2 linked regions of the Homo sapiens genome follow. The protein of the gene in region 1 interacts with the protein of each later gene in a pairwise test. Each region holds a gene or a part of one and is shown on either strand. Other genes may lie near its edges.

Region 1 (7,666 bases):
GACAGAACTATGACTAGGCCTTCTTTTGTAATGCCTAACCTTGTTTTTACTAACCCTGTTTTTAGACTCTCCCTTTCCTTTAATCACCTAGCCTTGTTTCCACCTGAATTGACTCTTCCTTAGCTAAGAGAGCCAGACAGACTCCATCTTGGCTCTTTCACTGGCAGCCCCGTCCTCAAGGACTTAACTTGTGCAAGCTGACTCCCAGCACATCCAAGAATGCAATTAACTGATAAGATACTGTGGCGAGCTATATCCGCAGTTCCCAGGAATTCGTCCGATTGATAATGCCCAAAGCCCCGCGTCCATCACCTTGTAATAGTCTTAAAGCCCCTGCACCTGGAACTGTTTACTTTCCTGTAACCATTTATCCTTTTAACTTTTTTGCCTACTTTACTTCAGTAAAATTGTTTTAACTAGACCCCCCCCCCACCCCATTCTAAACCAAAGTATAAAAGAAAATCTAGCCCCTTCTTCAAGGCCGAGAGAACTTTGAGTGTTAGCCGTCTTTTAGGCCCCAGCTAAATAAACAGACTCTTAATTCGTCTCAAAGTGTGGCGTTTTCTCTAACTCGCTCAAGTACAACACTTTCTAATCAGGCCTCATCAACCATGAAGGGCTGGAATTGTGTACAGGCAGGACCTCCAGCAAATCACAAAAGCAGAAGGAAATAGGGCCAGGCAGTTAAAAAAAAAATAGAAGATCAGGAGAATAAGAAGTCTGGTGCAGGGATTGGGGTGGGAATGCAGGCAAGGACTAGGGGGCAAAAACAAGCACAGCCACTGACACACCCCTGCCTGGCCTAATGAGGAAACTTCAAAATACCAGTCTGTGTAGGCCAGAGGTTGACTCCTACTTAAGCCCAGAGATGGCACTTGGGGGTCATGGCTGATGAATGGCAGTCAATGATAATAACAAACTACAACCACCCCTGCCTACCTTTAGATAAAGAGGCAAAAATAAGTAATTCCACAAGAGGCCTGGCTCAGCTTCACCAGATAAGCAAAAGGCAAGGGCAGGAGCTGCAAGACTGACAAGGAAGCCTGCACTCCAGCTTGGGGACCTACAGCAAAGCTGAGTCAAACGAGATTGCTTCTCAGGGACACAGGCACTCACATTTCACTGGAACAACGTGAAGATGTTAAGAGGCTAAGTAACAACAAAACCCTACCTGTTTTTACATAGCCAACGATCCCACCAGAAACAACCAGTGCTGTGTAGCCAAAGCCAAACCAATGCAAAGGCACTCTGAAAACACAAGAGAAGTCAGTGAGAAGTCAGTGCTAACCTGGATTTAAAAACAAACCATATTGTCATAGGATGGGGCTAAAAGGTAATCATTCCCCACAGGTCCTATGTGCCCACAGGTACTATCACTGAAAATAAGCACCACAGAGGTTGGATGACTTTCTGAGAGTCACACAACTAAGCAAAGCTAGAGCTGGGACTCAAACCCAAGTTTCTGGCCCACAGGTCCAGTGATCCTCCCATCCCGCACGCCATCCCAGGCAGTCTACTCTTAGGGTTCTTTTCAGCTGAGGAAAGGAACTCTGGTTTCCAGAAGCTCCTGGCTACTCTCTAACCATTTACTGTCTACTCACAATGGGAAGAGGGGCTTCTCCATTCTTCTCTTCTCAGTCCAGAAAGGAGACTACCCCAGGCCTGCATCTGGGGAAAACAAGCCGGATCAGCAGTGGTTAAAAGCACAGCTCCCCAGCAGTCAGAAAGAAGTGTGTCCAACCTGCAGGCTATGCAACCTAAGTCTCAGTATCCTTCACTGTACCATGAGGATAACACTGGTACCAATTTCCTGGGGGTGTTGTGAGCATTCAATGGATGTCACATGTAAAGGTGCTTAGCACCTAGTAAACCCTGAACAGATGCCGATCATTTCACATAGGTCCACAGGAAACTCAGCAAGATCCACTGACCAGCTCTATAATCAGGGAATGTGTTAGTCATTTCATTAAGCACTCACATTATCACTAAATCGGAAAGCAAATACTCCCGTGCCCTTAATCCAACTACTTTAATGTCTCTTTTGAGGGGTGGTAGGGATGTTGCTTTTCTTCACTGATGCAACAGCCAATTTCAATACTCAATTTTTTTTTTTAGAAACTTCTGCATCCAACTCACAGTTCTCGTTAGGAGGGCAGAAGGGGAGGGTAAAATACACGGAAACTCAAGTCAGAATCACATGTGACATTGCACCCTTGGAAAAACAGCTCCTATTTTCTTACAGAAAAGTATTCTGTATGCAGTGAACCTAACAAGATGGAAAGCAATGCATACGCCGTTTATTCTGTTTAAAGAATTAGGCCAGGCAAAGTGGCTCACGCCTGTAATCCCAGTACTTTGGGAGGCCCAGGCAGGCGGATTACCTGAGGTTAGGAGTTCGAGAACAGCTTGGTCAACATGGTGAAACCCATATTCTATTAAAACACACACACACACACACAAATCGGGCATGATGGCATGCACCTGTAATCCCAGCTACTTGGGAGGCTGAGGTGGGAGGATGGCTTGAGCCCAGGAGGCAGAGGCTGCAATAAGACATATTCAGGCTACTGCACTCCAGGCTGGGCGACACAGCGAGAACCCCTCCCCACCCCCCAAAAAAAGAAAGAATTAATTTCCCATAAAACGGGGAAGGGCAGCGGGCTTGGGATCTTGCCCACAGTTCTTAACTCGAGGCGGCACTGAGTAAGGGAGGCTTTTAAAGAGCTGGAGCAACAAAACCACCAGGAAACGAGGCAACACTATGCTACAAGGGTAAGCCTTTGCCTCAGGAGCTCAGGTGCTCCGAGCATCCACAGCCTCTTTTAAGACAAGCAGAAAATACCCAAGGAGAAAAGCACCGACCACACGGCATAAAGGCCCGCTGAATCGGGGGGACGAAAAGCAGACGGCCGTGAAACTCCTAAATAATCCCTAAAAGTTAAAAGTGGCAGAAAATAAAAACAATACTCTCCAAAGACCTGCACCGACCTGCCGAAGGCCCGCGGAGTCCACTACGGAGCGCAAGCCGCGGGACACAGCAGCCAGGTCTCTCCGGAAACGCGATTGCGTGCGCGCTGCGCCCCGGGGCCGCGGCAGGGCGGGGAGAAAGGCGGGACGTCGTGGCGCGTGCGCAGTGTCCTTGGAGAGAGGTGAGCGGAGAATGGGGACAGTGGGGGCGGGGCTTGAGCCGCGGATTACCAGCACGCGCCCTGCATCCCGGGGGCGGGGAGTGAGGCGGGGCATCGCGGCTAGCGCCGTTGGCGGGGAACCGGGCGGGGAATCTCTGTGCTTCCTCAGTCCCCAGGCCCAGCACCTGCAGGGCCGACCAGCTCCAGTCCCAGGTCCAATCCTGAGTGGCCAAAAGCCGGAAACCCGGAGTTGGAATTGGATCTTGCACAAGCTGGACCACGTAAGCTGGGCCAGGCCAGAGGTGGAGGCCACCGCTGCGGGAGGAGGGCATCTGATGATTTTGAAGGACCCCATTAATAGAGGGTATAAACCAGGTGCGGGCCATCAGGGAGGATTGTCACTCTGGCCCGATCTTGTTTGTTTACACCAGGAAGGGCCTGCCTTCCACCTGCAAGAAAATATGGCAGCTGCAGAATAATGTGGCGCAATGCCAAATATCCGTTTGTTTTAGGGAGTGAGGCTACTTGAGAAGCATCTTAAATGGGGAGAGAGAGCAAGTTAAATCTGATTTCCACGCAGCTCTGTGGATTCCGAATGTCCACAGTATGATGTTATCTCCATTCCCACTTCCGAGCCGCTCCTCTTCTGTGTTTCCTGCACCACCATTCGCTCAGTTGCTCTACACTAAAATTTGCTGTCATCGTTGACTTCTCCCTCTCCTTCATCCCCTACAAGTATCAACATAGACAACTCCGATCAATATAATCATCAGTGAATAAAGCAAATTGCAGCGCATATTCTTAAAGACAAACTTTCCACTTGCAGCAGCACCTACCTTCCAGATAGCTAAATTGAAGCCCGTGTTTATCATAGCTGCTTCTAACCAGCCAGAGCTGATAATAACTAAGAACTTGCAGGAATTGCAGTATGCCAGACCTTCAATTTAATTGAAGACTTTCCTGAACAATTAATGAGACTTGTCTTAACCAGCAGGGAATGGCTTTAGGGACTCATTCTTCCCTATGCAGGTGCAAGCCTCAAACCTTAATTAGGATCATCCACCATGATCCTCGAGCCCTTCCCCACCTTATACTTGAAGAGGCTGAACCTCAGAGAATTAAATTACCTACAGTCCTGGTCACTGGTAGAGCTATTATTTAAAGTAAGGTCTAATGTCAAAGCCTGCGTCCTTAATTCTACCATATGCTGCTTCTTGCAGTGTCGTTCCTCAACCAGAACACATAGCTCTTCTGTGTAGGTAAAGTCCATCAAAACATGTCATAAAATAAATTAAAGAAATTGGTTTCTGCTCTATTTCAATTAGTACCAGAGTAAAACAATCAATGATTTGTGTTTGGGAATATTTCTAGTTGGCATTAACGTTGTTAGGAGATAGCTTAGCTCTTCACTGGGGGCCCACTGAATTATCGGAACCCTGGAACACAAATGTGTCAAAAGGGTGTAATCAAAATTATGTCAGGGAATGTTAAGTTTCTAGTCTTTGGTCACTGAGGCCTATCAGTAGGTTTGGGTGTTTTGTTTTGTTTTTCCCACAAAGAGGCTTTGAGTAAGAATTGTGTCTGGTAGACAAACACAGGTACACACACAGGTGTGTACTCACACAGCAAGAGCAGTAGAGATCATCTCCCACAACACAAGAGCTCATGAAGAAAGGGAATTGAGCTTCAATGTAAGCATTAGTTTAGCATTTTTGGAGCCTGAATGTGTTGACTTTACAAATTAAGAAGTCCCTGAACAAAAACGTCAAAAACAAATCCCAAGTTGCAGTCTGCCCAGGTAATTCATGTCTATCAAGTGTCTACAATACCAATTTCTACATCTTTGGGAGTATTTTATAGGTTTGTTTGAAGAGCAAGGTCAATAACTCTTTCCCCAAGAAATAAATGAAATCATAAAAAAAAAACCGCCTATTTTCTTAACCTAACCTATCTGCCATCTACTTCTGGATCATATTCATTGGAGCCATAAAAATATTAGCAGAAGCATATGCAGTTCTTATTATCTGCCACTGTTGGAAGCGCTTTACATATGTTAACTAACTTACACTTCATACCAACTCTGTGCAGTGACGACTATGATTATCTCCTGCTTTACACATGGAAGAAATTGAGGCACAGACTACAAGGTCACACAGCAAATGGCAGAGCTGTCCTAACTCTGCATTTGTTTCTTGCAGTGAAGAGTCTTTTTTCTGTCTCTTAGTCTGTTCTCAACACAGTGACCAGAGCACTTGGGTTAGAAGTCTGACTGTGCCATTTCTCTCCCCAAAACCCTCTGGTGGCACCCCTTTTCTCAGGCAGTGCTTTGCAAAGCCCCACACATCCTCCTCCCTGACATCAGCATCTTCTCTTTCCCCCTCACTTGTGTTTCCTTCTTGCCCTCAGCTGCTTCATCTGCCTGGAACGCCTCCCCAGACAATCTCCTGGTTCACGCCCTCTCCTCCTTTCTGTCTTTACGCAAATGTCACTTCTCAGAGAGACCTTCCCTAATCACCTGATTTAAAACTTCAACTCATCTGCATTTCCCCCGACAGCATCTTTCCTTCCATGACAATTCCCTGCTAACCTGCTCTGTAACTGGCTTAATCATCGTAGAGCCTACCTCCCCCTTTTTTGCATGTTTGTTTCATGGGAGTGATGATATTTATGCAGCATTTAGCACAGTGCCTGGCCCATAACCAGTACTCAGTAAACATGTGTTGAATGGACAAGTAGATGTGGAGTGAGAAATGAGAGGGGTGGTCGGCAGACAGGAGAACAAAGGCCACATGTACAGTTTGCCCTGGCTGTACCCTGGCTCTGGTTCTTCCTGCCTTGGCCTCAGCCAGATACACCTGTGTCCTTCTCATGTACTTACCCCCACGTCCTCTGTTGAAGCTTAGGACATCCAGAGTTGCATTTGTTTCTTGCAGTGAAGAGTCTTTTAAAATCTGAAATAGGCTGTGAGCGGTGGCTCACGCCTGTAATCCCATCACTTTGGGAGGCTGAGGCACATGGATCACCTGAGGTCAGGAGTTCGAGACTAGCCTGGCCAACATGGTGAAACGCTGTCTCTACTAACAATACAAAAAAAAAAAAATAGCCGGGTGTGATGGTGCACGCCTGTAATCCCAGCTACTCAGGAGGCTGAGATGGAAGAATCGCTTGAACCTAGGAGGCAGAGGTTGTAGTAAGCCGAGATCACTCTACTGCACTCCAGCCTGGGTGACAGAGGGAGACTCCATTTCCAAAAAAAAGAAAAGAAAAATGAAAAATTGAGTTGACATCATGGGCCCTGTGTCATTCAAAAACTCAACATTTCACTAATCAGTCAAGCTGCCCATGACTGCCCCAGGCCATTGCATTCAATATGTTAATTTATTTACCAAAGCTGTGTCTTTCAGAAGGGTTGTGTTTTTCCTTTTAGCCCTCAGAATCTAGGATAGCACCTGGCACACATGGTGAGCACTCACTTCATGGCTGTCGGATAAACAATGGAGCAAGGAAGGTGGAGATGGATGCTTACACATGGGGAATTGTATCAGGAAGGAGTGTATGTGTGATTAAAACCTGTTCTACATAAATAGAAAAGTTGATCATTCAACACATGGACGGCTAAGACTATATGCAGACTATCCATTCTCAGGAAGAAAAGGGAAGCAATCTACCTGACTTCCCCAAATGGATTCCGTATTTTGATATGAATTGTTATCATGTGGGAAATGCGATGGCCTCCAGGTATACTACCTCAGAGATCAGTGAGCAGAAAAGCTCACAGATCAAATTAAAATGCTTGAATCTCTTAGTTTATTTAAATCAATTTAAAGAGACAGTGAAAAGCAAGAGGAAAGAGATGGGATAAGTAAACGCTGTCAAGAGACGGTGCAAATCTGGTGGAAGATGCCTGCTACCTAAAGCCTACCTCATACAATGTTCAGGGGCCACCATCCCCCACCTGCCCCAACCTCCACCCCTCTCTGTGATATTGACTTTCCTGTGGATCGTGGTGCTGAAGACGACAGGTTTGAGCAAGGAGACTCAAAGAGGCAAGGTGCCCCACGCCAATGACACAAACTTGCTCTGTCCGAGATGCAGGTACAAGCAAGCCTAGCAAAGAGCTGAGCTTTGCCTGTTGGCCTGTGGAGCAACCATGGGTTTTACTGTGTTTCTTGGACAGAGGACACTTGGGGACAGAAGTGAATAGCATGACTATTTCATGCTTATGTATATTTTATGCACTGTATTTAGTGCCTCTTGGACATTTAATGTATCAAATATTTCATGCTCAGGTGTCTCATGTATACTTGGTAGCTAGGAATGTTAGGTATCCTGGACTTTCTATTCCTTTCTGTGTCTAACACATGTTCTACTTACTACTTAACACATCTAATAAAATCTGCCTATGTTTTAAAAACTAAGATTTATCTATACTTAACTTGTACTAAAAGCTTTCCCCTGTATTTCACAAACATATTAATCTTCCTTAAAAGTATTGAATACTCCCAAAAACAAATGTATATTCCAACTTTTTATTTTCA
Region 2 (7,890 bases), on another chromosome or scaffold:
AGGACCTAGGCACACACATATGGTGGCCACACCCAGGAGGGTTGATTGGCAGGCTGGAAGACAAAAGTCTCCCAATAAAGGCACTTTTACCTCAAAGAGGGGGTGGGAGTTGGTCTGCTGGGAATGTTGTTGTTGGGGTGGGGAGGAGTTATTTCAATGGAGGAGTTATTTGCAGATTGCAGAGAGAAATGAGGGAAGTTCGCCTACACCGGGCCATCTGCGGGGTCTGCAGGTGAGGAAAAGAGAGAAAGCATTGGCTGAATCTATATGCCCATTTTTTAAAACAAGATCCAAAGTCCATGAACATTTTACACACAAGAATACCGAAGCTTATGGTACCTATTGGTACAAAAGCCCTAAGTACCAATACGAGACCAGAGTTGGCATTCGTGCCTTTAAGAGATCCCTTTCCTTTTTCCCTCTGCCCTCTCAGCAACCCCCTTACCCCCAACCAACACACACACACACTTACCAGTGGGGGCTGCTGTATGTCTTGGCTGCCGAACGGGGAAGGTGACATAGGCATCATAGCCAAAGAGGCACGTAGCGATTAGGCCCAGTACCTGGGGGACAGGATAGGAGTGAGGGGGTTTAGATTAGCTGGTCAGGTTACTCAGTCTCTTATCTTCTTGTATCCACCACCTCCAGCACCTGCCCCACGCAGGATGGGACTCAAGCACCGGGTTGGTAAGCCAGGGAAAGGCCAAGAGAGTGCATCCTACCCCACTCTCCCTCCTCCTATACCTCTCAACACAGGGAGGCCACACTGTGGCCCTACCCGTAGGGGGCACAATTCAAGTCATACTTTTTTTTTTTTTGAGACACAGTATCACTCTGTCACCCATCTGTCACTGGGGCTGGAGTGAGTGGCATGATCTTGGCTCACTGCAACCTTTGTCTTCTGGGTTCAAGTGATTCTCCTGCCTCAGCCTCCTGAGTAGCTGGGACTATAGGCGCCCACCACCATGCCCGGCTGATTTTTGTATTTTTAGTGGAGATGGGGTTTCGCCATGTTGGCCAGGCTGGTCTTGAACTCCTGACCTCAAGTGATCTGCCTGCCTCGGCCTCAGCCTCCCAAAGTGCTGGGAATACAGGCATGAGCCACTGCGCCCGGCCCCAATTTCTACTACATTTGGGACAAAGTTCTTGCAGATGGTAGTCTAGTGCATTGACAAAGGGGCCGCCTGTTTGTACCTCTCACCAAGGTCCTTGTGTCTGACAAGGGACTTCCCTTCACAGCAAATGAAGACCTTGGGAGGCAAAACCAAGTCCTGGGCCAGACTTTCCTCCATGTCTGAGGACAAGTGTGACTTGCTGTGGGTCACACGATTTCTGCCAGAAGCAAAGGCAGAAATGGTCCCTGGCTCCTCAAACCCTTCGCTCTGTGCTTCAGAGCTGCTCCCATGGCCTTTACCCCTGCGACGATTTTGGAGTGGTTTCCTCTCTCAACAAGGACAACAATGGAGGTGATCAGGTAGAGGATTGCCGCTATGAGGGTTCGGAAGAAATCCTGTGAGGTGTAGGGAGGAGAAGAGGGAAGTCAGCAACCACAGTTCCCCGACAATCCTAACTGCCCAGACCCCTCCCTGGTCTTGCCATTGTGGACCCCTTCTCACACTCCAGGGCCAGTTGATGAATGGTATCTTGGTGTGCAGGTCACACATGTAGACAACAAAGAAAATAGCAGCAAGGATCATCTCAATCACCGACAGGGAGGAGTAGCCTGGTGTGGAGGCACTGAAGCAGATCAGGATCACCAGGCATAATATCTGGAAGGGTGACATGGGAAAGGGGACCTCAATCAGCAACCAGGGCTGAGAAGATTGGTTTAAATTGGGGGTCCCATACTAAGATGCCTACGAGGGCTGGGGAAATGACATACAATAATAGCTAAACACTTTTTATGTGCTCACTGTGTTCCAAATTCAATCATCACGACAATCTAATGCTCTGGGTACTATTATTACTCTTTCTAATTTATAGACGAGAAAACTGAGGCACAGAGAGGTTTAATGGCTTGGCCAGGGTCACCCAACAAGTAAGGAGTAGAGTTGGGTGCCTCAGTTTCCTCTTTTCCCTTCTAGGTTACGGGCAGCCTGAGGGGAGTGGCGCTGCCAGGTGTTTTGTGAGCCCCGCTGACGCCAGCTTTGTGGCCTTGACCGGGGCGGAACACGCGGTTCCCCCAGCAACCCCTTTGGGAAGCGGTGAGAGTGACACCAGAGAGGCAGGACTCCGTTAAAGGCGCCGCACCCCTTTTACAAGTGACTCAAAGGCGGCGCCCACTTTGAGAAGGGTGGAAACCCCGAAAAGCTAAGGACATCCCGCCCGGCCTCTGAAGGGCGAGGAAGAACTGGCGAAGGGCGGGGCGCTCTACACCGCGGGACTAGCGCGGGGCGGGGGGGCCCCACCCCAACAGGCCCTGCCCCTGGGCGCGCTGCCAGCCCGCCCTCCTGTGCCCAGGCCGCGCCACGCCCTGCCACAGGAGGCCCCCACTTCCCAGCACCCTGGGACCCCTTCGATGCGTCCACTGATGAGTTCACGCAGGCTGTCCCCACGTAGCCCTCCGTATGCGTTATAGGCTCCTTGCTTCACCCCGGGGACCACCAGATCTCAACAACCTTCGTCAAACCCCACCGACTCGCCCTGCGCCCCGGGTTTCGGGCCTCCACCGTGAACCCACCCACCTGCACCCCACTGCCGAGCGCCCCGGCCAAGTGCCTGCCTCACCCGGACCATCCAGTTCCGCATGGTCCAGCCACCCCATCCCGCTTTTGCCCACGCGCCTGCCCCAGAACGCTCACAATCTCAGCAAACAGGAGGATTCCCTTTCGAGTGCGCGAGAAGTTGGTGCAGGCGGCCCAGCAGCCAGGAGCCGAGAGGCGCTCAGAATCCGCCATGGCATGGGCTGGAGTCCCTGGTGCCTCGGAGGATCTGCTCACTTGCTCGTGGTTTCGAGGACGCTGTACACCCAGCTGTCTTGCCCGCCGTCTGGCCGGGAAGGGGGCCCCGGGGCGAAGGAGGGAGTGAATCACCGCGCAGAGCTGACGCGGGCGGGGCCGGAGCCGGGCCAGGTGGCTGCCGCCCCGGAAGCCCCCTCGCCCCGCCCCCCAAGGATACTCCCAGCCTGGCGCACAGCCCCCGGGGCGCCCCATCGCAGGGGTGCTTGGCAGCTCCAGGTACCAGGAGCAGTAATAGCGGGACCCTTCGCCTTTTTGGAATGCAAATGCACCCGAGACAGCTTCAGCTTAGAACCGCGGGAATCTGGCTTTGGGATGGAGTGACTCAGTTTCCTTAACTGAATAAAACGGCCGAGGCAGAGTTAAATCCGAAAGACTTGGGGCCCAGTATGTTGCCAGAATTCGGAATATTTTTGATTTCAGAAAGTTTTCCCATGCATATACTCTCAGCGGGGTTTGGAGCTGCCGCGTTACAAAAAAAAAAAAAAAGGGCCAGGCGCGGTGGCTCACGCCTGTAATCCCAACACTGGGAGGCCGAGGCGGGTGGATCACCTGAGGTCGGGAGTTCGAGACCAGCCTGACCAACATGGAGAAACACCGTCTCTACTAAAAATACAAAAATTAGCTGGGCACGGTGACGCATGCCTGTAATCCCAGCTACTCGGAAGGCTGAGGCAGGAGAATCGCTTGAACCCGGGAGGCAGAGGTTGCGGTGAGCCAAGATCATGCCATTGCACTCCAGTCTGGGCAACAAGAGCGAAACTACGTCTCAAAAACAACAACAACAACAAAAACGGTATTTCTTCAAGAAAAGGTATGAACGTTCACAATAACTGGGTAAGGATTGAAAAGTGTTCCTCGGCTGGGCGCAGTGGCTCATGCCAGTAATCCCAACACTCTGGGAGCCTCAGGTGGGAGGATCGCTTGAGCCCAAGAGTTGGAGATCAACCTCGGCAACACAGTGAGACCTCATCTCTACAAATAATTTTAAAAATTAGCCCAGGCGGCCGGACGCGGTGGCTCAAGCCTATAATCCCAGCAGTTTGGGAGGCCGAGGTGGGCAGATCACGAGGTCAGGAGTTCGAGACCAGCCTGTCCAACATGGTGAAACCCCGTCTCTACTAAAAATACACAAAAAATGAACCGGGTGTGGTGGCGCTCGCCTATAATCCCAGCTAGTCAGGAGGCTGAGGCAGGAGAATCGCTTGAACCTGGGAGGTGGAGGTTGTAGTGAGCCAAGATTGCGCCACTGCACTCCAGCCTGGGCGACAGAGCAAGACTCCGTCTCAAAAAAAAAAAAAAAAAAGAAAAAAGAAAAAAATTAGCCCAGGCATGGTGGCACGTGCCTGTAATCCCAACTACTCGGGAGGCTGAGGTGGGAGGATTGCTTGAGCCTGGGAGTTCAAGGCTGCAGTGAACCATGATCAGACCACTGCACTCCTGCCTGGGCAACAGAGCAAGACCCTGTCTCCAAAAAAGGAAAAACAAAAAGAAAGGAAGAAAGAAAATTGTTCCTCGTTAGATCAGGTCAGGTTTTGTAACCAAATAGTGCCTATCTTGTGGGAAAACCATCAGTTTCCAGAGCTTTTTGTTTTTGGATAATGGATTGTGGACAGTGGAATAAACCTCTGAGCAGTGATGAGAATAAGACCCTGCCAGTGTAAAGGCTGTGTGAGAATAGGGGTTGGTGAGCATTGAGTTGCTCAGAAATAGGGCAAGCATTGTTTCAAGTGTTAGAGCCCAAGGCCAGGAGCAGTGGCTCATGCCTGTAATCCTAGCACTTTGGGAGGCCGAGGTAGGAGAATCACTTCAGCTCAAGAGTTCGAGACCAGCCTGGGCAACGTAGTGAGAGCTTGTCTCTATTTTAAAAAAACATATTTTGTAGTAGTGTTAGAGCCCAGAGAGCCCAAGGTCTGATTCTGTGTTCTGCAATCCCAAGGAAGTCCTGGCCCTAAATGTTGGGCCTCAGTTTCCTGGTTCTGAAGAGAGGGGCCAGTCAGCACAATCGTACATGAGGAATAGGAAAGTTTATTTCTGGGGGATTGGCAAGATGAATGGATGGCTCCTGGGGTGCAAGGCTGGGTGACATTTGTAGACACTTTGTTTGTATTTATTTATTTTTTAGTAGAGACAAGGTCTCGTTATGTTGCTCAGGCTGGTCTTGAACTCCTGACCTCAAGCAATTCTCCCGCCTTGGCCTCCCAAAGTGCTGAGATTACAGGCGTGAGCCACTGCGCCTGGCTAAGTGTGTTATTTTGAGCAAGTAATTTCCCCCAGCTCAGCCTTAATTTCTGCATCTAAGACATGCATCTCGTCTCCTGGAATCAGGATCCCAGAGGTACCCTGAGGGACACACTCTCCAGACTAGAAGTTGTTTTTATTCTCATCTCATTTGAAGTGGGGGAGAATCATAACTGGATGGCCAGGAGGATTCAACCCAAGGGCCTGCCTGCTCTCTCTGCCAACACAGGGCCCCTCAAAACTAAGGAAAGAGCTCCCCTCTTTCAGCCCCGGTTGCCGGAAGAGTGAGTGAATAGTGGAAGGGATGAAACATACTTTTCCTAGTGATGAGTATGTGCTTTCCAACTCTGTGAGGACACGTCTGAATTTCTGAAACAAGATGAACCTGGTTCCACTTCAACACCTTTGCACTTGCTATTCCCCCTGCTGTCAATGCCCTTCACTCAGTGCTTCATATACCTGGCTTCTGGTCATTCAGGTTGCAGCTCAAGAGTTATGTCTTCAAAGAGGCCAGAAGCTCACCATCATCTCCCACAATGTAACCTCCTTTTGCTAGCTTCATAGCTTCATGACTCTCACTTCTCTCTGAAATTGTCTTTTTTTTTTTTTTTTTTTTTTGAGAAGGAGTTTTGCTCTTGTTGCCCAGGCTGGAGTACAATGGCACAATCTTGGCTCACCGCAACCTCCACCTCCCGGGTTCAAGCGATTCTTCTGTCTCAGCCTCCTGAGTAGCTGAGATTACAGGCATGTGCCACCACACCAGGCTAATTTTGTATTTTTAGTAGAGATGGGGTTTCTCCATATTGGTCAGACTGGTCTCGAACTCCTGACCTCAGGTGATCCGCCTGCCTTGGCCTCCCAAAGTGTTGGGATTACAGATGTAAGCCACGAGCCTGGCCTTTTTTTTTTTTTTTTTTTTTTTTTTGAGATAAGGTCTCACTGTCACTCCAGCTAGAGTGGAATGGTGCAATCATGGCTCACTGCAGCCTTGACCTCCCAGGCTCAAGTGATCCTCCCACCTCAGTGTCCCAAGTAGTTGGGACTACAGGCATGAGCCACCACTCCCAGCTAATTTTTAAACTTTTTGTAGAGACAAGGTCTATGTTGCCCAGGCTGGTATCAAACTTGTAGGCTCAAACAATCCACCCGCCTCCGCCTCCCAAAGTACTGGGATTACAGGCACAAACCACCATGTCTGGCCTGAAGTTTTTTTTTTTTTTTTTTTTTTTTTTGAGACTGATTCTCGCTCTGTCACCCAGGCTGGAGTGCAGTGGTGCGATCTTGGCTCGCTGCAACCTCCACCTCCTGGGTTCAAGCAATTCTCTGCCTCAGCCTCCCGAGTAGCTGTGATTACAGGCACCTGCTACCACACCTGGCTAATTTTTGTATTTTCAGTAGAGACGGGGTTTCACCATCTTGGCCAGGCTGCTCTTGAACTCTTGACCTCGTGATCCACCAGCCTCGGCCTCCCAAAGTGCTGGGATTACAGGCGTGAGCCACCACGCCTGGCCTGGTTTTTTATTTATTCATTTTCTCGTCTTTTTTGTCTGACATCTGTCTACTCTCATTACATACATCAGCTACACAAAGAAATTTTATGTCTTGTTCCTCCAGCATCTCCACAGTACCTAGCACAGTGCAACATATACAGTTGGGGTTCAATTAATACTTGTCAATGCAGGTGAAATTGAGAGGACAGACTTGGGAATCAGGCCTTGATTAAATCGTGCTTTGACCCTCCTCTCTGTAGCTATCTGCACTCCCTGGGCCTCACTTTCCTCCTCTGCGAAATGGACATATTCGGATAGTTGAGTAGATGTGCAACTATTGTAGATGAAAATAAATATTGCAATAAAGCCAGTAGCAGGGATAAAACTAAGTACATGGTGGCTGGGGTTACTATTATTAGTCTCCTGGGTGTGACTGTATTTATAGACTGGGGCTCTTGAGCCCTTTGCTGACTTCTGAAGAACCACACCTCCACCAGGCTCTAAGTCAGGGGTAGCTGGAAGCCACCCTGGCACACTTCCCCACAATGTCTATCTACAGCTCTAACCACTCAAGTGTTCACCTCTTCACCCTCCAGCTCCCAGCTCTCGCAGCTTGTCTTCACCGTTCCTCTTTCCTCTCCAAGGCCACCTGGACTCTCGCATTCCGGTCCTTTAAATTCTTTCTTCCTTCCCCGTCCCCTCCCCACAGGGGCGAAAGTTGCCCATTCCGTCAGACCACAGCTTCCCTCCTGTGGGGGGATGGGGCCGAGTGCTCAGGATGTGGTGACAGCGGAGGTGACTGGACATTTCTGTCCTCTGCCAGCGCCTTCCTCGCGGCTACCCCGGTTGGAGTCCCGCTGGCCATATAAGCCCTGGCTGTAGGGCTCTGTTCCCAGGGTGAAGGAAACTCTGGGCCTCTCCCGTGCCGGGAACGCCCAGTGTGTGGCGTGTGCACACAAGCCCGGCTGCAGTTCTTCACCATGTACGGAAAATGGGGGCACGGCCCAAAGGTTCTAACAGCCTTTTTTAGCCCGGCCCGTCCAGGGGCGCTGACTCACACCTTCCCCACTCCGCCCCAAAGGGGGCTCCAGGACCCCAGCCGGTGCCCGGAGAGTGGTAGCCTACGTGCCAGCAAAAGCTGGCAGACTAGGCCGGAAGTGGGAGACCGCAGGCCTCTGGCGAAGGAAGCTGCCCTGCTTCTA

The links. Proteins that work in one complex are often made in the same cells at the same time.
Region 2: the proteins of TMEM14B (region 1) and PLP2 interact in binary tests that used the Homo sapiens proteins (3 or more experiments, as listed by UniProt).

Annotation. Positions count from the first base shown.
Region 1 is NC_000006.12:10,743,204-10,750,869, reverse strand, and holds the start of TMEM14B (transmembrane protein 14B), read right to left. Parts: upstream 3,066-7,666; 5' UTR 2,989-3,065; intron 1,669-2,988; coding exon of another isoform or gene 1,625-1,668; coding exon 1,602-1,624; intron 1,249-1,601; coding exon 1,172-1,248; intron 1-1,171. UniProt on the Homo sapiens protein: Primate-specific protein involved in cortical expansion and folding in the developing neocortex. May drive neural progenitor proliferation through nuclear translocation of IQGAP1, which in turn promotes G1/S cell cycle transitions.
Region 2 is NC_000023.11:49,167,008-49,174,897, reverse strand, and holds the start of PLP2 (proteolipid protein 2), read right to left. Parts: upstream 3,001-7,890; 5' UTR 2,898-3,000; coding exon 2,802-2,897; intron 1,770-2,801; coding exon 1,617-1,769; intron 1,511-1,616; coding exon 1,415-1,510; intron 564-1,414; coding exon 473-563; intron 227-472; coding exon 204-226; 3' UTR 1-203. UniProt on the Homo sapiens protein: May play a role in cell differentiation in the intestinal epithelium.